2 separate regions of the Homo sapiens genome follow, and region 1 is linked to region 2. Evidence: fine-mapped QTL for protein levels in blood plasma. Region 2 holds a variant in brackets. A gene starts in the other region. All regions are shown on their reverse strands. Region 1 holds the start of CCL11 (C-C motif chemokine ligand 11). Region 2 holds the start of CCR1 (C-C motif chemokine receptor 1).

Evidence for each region. A credible set is the group of variants that fine-mapping cannot tell apart. PIP is the chance, under the fine-mapping model, that this variant and not a neighbour inherited with it causes the effect. Protein levels are from antibody-based Olink assays in UK Biobank. Linkage for the fine-mapping came from a reference panel and not from the study's own genotypes, which makes the PIPs less certain.
Region 1: CCL11 starts here. The variant in region 2 is the best candidate, but not a certain one, in a credible set for the plasma level of the CCL11 protein (UK Biobank, PIP 0.51).

What each region holds. Positions count from the first base shown.
Region 1 is chr17:34,284,267-34,286,766 of GRCh38, reverse strand. CCL11 (C-C motif chemokine ligand 11) reads right to left here and starts at 1,025. Exons shown (of 3, transcript NM_002986.3): 1 at 883-1,025. The coding sequence starts at 958.
Region 2 is chr3:46,207,654-46,210,153 of GRCh38, reverse strand. It overlaps CCR1 (C-C motif chemokine receptor 1), which reads left to right and starts at 1,841. Exons shown (of 2, transcript NM_001295.3): 1 at 1,841-1,872. The variant G/A (reference allele first, on the strand shown) is at 993.

The DNA of each region.
Region 1 (2,500 bases), not on the chromosome of region 2:
CTGTTTTGAGACACAAGGTAGACTTGCATTTCTTGGCCACTTTTGTTTGGTTGGAGGCATTAATTAGTTTTGATCAATAAAGAAGGAGACAAAGTGATGGGTGTCATTTTTGAGCCACAGTGCATTGCCTATGCAAGACTCCTGAGAGCTTTCTTCTGCTTTATCACAGTATCCATCAATGTTCCCCCACATGGGCAACTTCTCCATCAGTCTAGAATCCTGAGTATAAAATGCAGAAGCCTGAGCCCATACATTATAGATATTTAGTACAAGTGAGAAAGTAACTTTTGTTAATTTAGTTAATTCTGTTAAGTCATTGATAATTTAGAACTGTTTGTTACCATGCTATGCACTGGCTCAGTGGGACCGATACACTCAGTAAATTTGTCACCAGAGTATGGGAAAATGAGTTATGGAACAAATCTCCTAGATAACTTTCCCAAAGAGTGTCAAAATAAGTCACCTCAAGAGATCCCCCTGGGACCTCGTTCTTCTCTTAGCCACTGTCTCTGAAAGCTGTCCTGGAGTCGAATTAACATACTGAGCTTCTAATCAACAGATTTTCCTTCTCTCCCACTGCCAAAAATGCCCACCATGCCCACAGTAAGACAGAGCCATTCCCCATTCCCAAACACTGTAAGGATAGCTGGGTATGGATGCACCCAGCAACCCTCTTGAATGTGGGGAAAAGACTCGGGAGCTTTCTAGTTCTGGCTCTTCCAGTGACTGGATGTGAGGTTGAGGCATTTCTTGTCCACCCACAAAACCTGTTTCCCTATTTTTCAAATGGAGAATTTGCAGTGAGTCTGTAAAGATTCTTGCTGACCTAGTAGCTCTGGAGGTGGTTACCTTACCTTTCCTGTAAGGAGTTGGGGGGCTTACCTGGCCCAGCGAGCCCCTGGGGGCTGAAGGCAGCTGCTATGAGCAGCAGCCACAGAAGTGCTGCGGAGACCTTCATGTTGGAGGCTGAAGGTGTGAGCTTTGGCGTGAGAGGTGGTGGTTTCTGGGTTGGTCTCAGCCTCTCTGCTCCTCTGGCCCATCTGCCTGCCTTTTATAGGGAGCAGACAGTGTGGGAGATTCCAGGGAAGCCTTTGCCCATGCGGGGGTCACGATGAAGGGATTCCTGATTGCTGACCAGATTCCAGATCCTAGGAAGTCAAGCAGAACAGAAGAGAGGCAAGCTAGTAGGAGGGACTTGGTACATTTTTTAATCCATCTGGATCTTGCCTTGGAAAAGGAGGGGAATATGTGGTTATGAAATGAAGTTAAACATCTGTAGTGGGGGAAGAGAGCAAGAAAACCAAGGCCCTAGGGGATGAGTTGAAATGAAACACCTGTAGTTGGGGAAAGGAGCAAGGAAACCAAAGGCCTGGGGGATGAGTCGATCTAAGAACCTTCCTTGATTCCTGTGTTCACATGGTGGTCTTGAGGATTTTGGAGACCAGGAAGGAGCCCCAAAACTTCCATTAGGCTCCCACCCAGATGCAGAGAGAGCTCAGCAGCCCTGCACATAGTTGCATCTCTGAACCAGGAAGGACAACACACCACAGCTTTGCTGCTGTGTTTCAATGTAATGATCACAGAATCTTAGTCCCTGAAATTTTAGCATGATAGGACATCAGAACTGGATAGTTTCTATTAATCTTGACTTCTGAGGCACTTTAAAACCATTTGCTTAGCTGCTAAAGCCCTTTTCCAAATGGAATTAAAACAAACCCCAACTCATCAAATACACTGTAGTGAAGGGGATTTGTTTGAAATAGAATAGGCAGCCTCTCGTGCCCTTATTCCCCAGGGAACACATTTAGGGAACACATTTGGAAAATCAATCATCTAGTTCCCCCCTCACTCTCTGAGCACACATTGCAGACAAGGTATCTGATGGCTAAAAATATCAAAGAGAGAGGCAACACAAGAACCTATACATATCCCTTTGTTCATAACACTAGGCACCCTAGTTGGAGAGGGTATAAGGGAGGCAAAGTCTTTAATGGAGTCACTGCAGCGGATTACAGCATTGAATACTGGTGTGGAGGTACTGCAAACCTGTTTCCTGTTTTTTCCTGCACACTCTCATATCAAATTGATTGATTGGTACAGTAGCACAAACAAGAATGTTAAAGATTCTGAGGAGTTGACTTGCGTTAGTTAAATACTGTGTTGTGGTTGACTGGTGATGTCTGTCATGGGCACAGGATTAGAGACAGCTCTTGCTGTCCTGCAAAGTCTCTAAGTGCCCATCTAGGATAATTGGTCTATAATTACCTAAAAAGTTAACTATAATTACCAAATAGAGGCCAAAAATGTGGAGTCTTCCCTGTTCTTTCCTGCTCCATTCCTGGTGGGTTAGTCTAATGTAGAACCTGAATTCAGGATATCTGCATTTGGATGATGGCTCTGTGACTGACTAGCTGTGATACCATGGACAACTTACTTAACCACTCTCTGCTAGGGTAAGAGCAGGATACTAATCATGTGTACTTTAGGGAATTGTCGTGTG
Region 2 (2,500 bases):
CACATGGGACTCTGAGCCAAAAGCATTGAGAAAATCTAGATCCATGCCCCCCAAATTTAAGCATGCATCAGAATCATGCCAGTCTTTGTCAAAACCTGGATTGCTTGGCCGCATCCCCAGGATTTCTGAGTCAGTATATCTGGCATGTAACCCCAGAACTTGCATGGCTAGCAATGTCCCAGGGAATGTGAATGCTGCTGGTCCAGGGACCTCACTTTGAGAACCACTGCTCTAAAGGACTTCCTCACCCCTTCCCACCCTCGATGCACCCTTCCTTAGCCCAGGGTATTTCCCAGGCCACTACAAAAGCTGTTCCTCATTGTGGTAACTTGGTTAATTGTTTGTGATCCTTCCTAAGCTATAAGCTCTCAAAGAATGGATCCAGCCTCTTTCTTCACCACTATATCCCAAGCACCTAACACAATGTCCGGCACATTGTGAGTACTGAATAAATATTTGTTCAATGAACAAGCAGATTTGCCTGGTACATCCCCTCTGTGGAATGAAACCTAGAGCAGAGCTGGAAGCCTGGTCAAGGATGAGGTACTGACCATGTCCCTTACTTTAGACAGGATCAAGGAAAAGGCAGGCCTCACAAGCCTCTGTTCTCTTTGGAAACTGATCCACCAGCAAAGTACTGCAAATAGCCAGGCACATGCAGACCCCCATTTATTTCTTTGGGGTGAAGCTGAGTGATGATCAGATGTCAAGCTTAGGCCATCTTGTCTGAATTCTTCATTTTACAGATAAGAAAACTGAACCATGAAGAGACAAGTGATCTTTTCAAAGCACATTCACACTGATGATTTCTGAAACAGTGCTTTGTAGCAATGCCGTGAGGAAGGTTAGGGGTGTCCCCACTTTATAGAAGACACAAGGGCAGAGGCAGAGTAGGTGTTGGCAGTTGTGAGGAGAGTCACAGTACTCATCATTTGTCAGACATTTTTCACTGTGCCAGGCACTCTGACATTTTTCATGTACAAGTTGACTTC[G/A]TGCTTCTCCTCTGAGGTAAGCATTCAATACTCCCATTTAGCAGAGTAGGAACCAAGACTTAGAAAGGTGAGTGATCTGCCCATGTCACAGGTGGAGAGCTGGGATTTGAACTTGGCCCATGTTTGACCATCACGTAAAACAGGAATGGGGCATCAGAAAGGGAAGGTCAAAATGTAACCAACAGACCTATATTCCCTTCATGCTGGAGGTTCCTGGGGCAAAGCCACTCTCTGAGGTTTGGTGGGGAGGGACTTGGGGAGCAGAGAGCAGAGGGACAATGAGCTCCCAGAAGCCGAGGGGCATAGGGTGCCAAAGAGAAGCTGCTGCCTCTGTGAGCACCCATGTCAGTTAGTTTTGAGGAACAGGACTCAGGGTTCCAGTTTAAATCCTTCCATTCACAATCTTTAAGAAGAAGAAAAAAAAGAAGTCTGCCGCTGACCACAAGAGCTCTATGCCCTGCCCCCATCCCACATACACACATCCCACACTTCAATTGCTCCAAACATTCTGGGAACATCTCACTGCCACCCACCTCACCCAACTCAGCTTCACCTGCCCCCAATTCCCTTAAGGCTGAGCTCCCAGGGCCAAGACTCAAGAGGCTCAGAGTGAGCAGAGAAAATCCTCGCAGTTAACTTGGCTTCCAGGAAGTGGCCACTGGTGGGCGTTGTGGCCATTCATGAGCACCAAACCACACAAAAAGAAGAACTTTGTCCCTTTCTTGTCATTTTGAAAGACTGTGAAACTGGAGCCAATTCTCCATCATCACACAGGAAGCTGAGTACTTCCTACTTGGTCAGGATCTTGAAACTTGAATTCATAAAAACCCAGAAAGCCCCAGAAACAAAGACTTCACGGACAAAGTCCCTTGGAACCAGAGTAAGTGTCACTTGTCTTTTCTGTCTTATCTGTTACTGTGGAGGGCAGTGTTGTTCAAAGACATGCATGCAGCTAGGGGCTCCTCAAAGGTAGGGGGAATTCTTTGAGTAGGCTGGGCAAATGTCTAAGTAGCCCATGGATGCATCTCCAAGGCAATTAATACTGTAGCAATACTGAGAATGGTGGATTTATAAAGCTGGGTGCTCAGATGAAATATAGGCTTTTTTGCTAAAAAGGAAGCTTACTTGAAGGATTGGCTTTTGGTTACTGATTAAGAAAGTCAGTCAGTACTAAGGGACAAAAGGTGTTTTCTGTGGAAACCTATTCAATAAGAAATTACTTGGCGGGGCGCAGTGGCTCACGGCTGTAATCCCAGCACTTTGGGAGACCGAGGCAGGTGGATCATGAGGTCAAGAGATGGAGACAATCCTGGCCATATGGTGAAACCCTGTCTCTACTAAAAATAAAAATTAGCCGGGCATGGTGGCGCATGCCTGTAGTCCCAGCTACTCAAGAGGCTGAGGCAGGAGAATCACTCGAATCCGGGAGGTGGAGGTTGCAGTGAGCTGAGATTGCACCACTACACTCCAGCCTGGCGACAGAGCAAGAGTCTGTCTGAAAAAAAAAA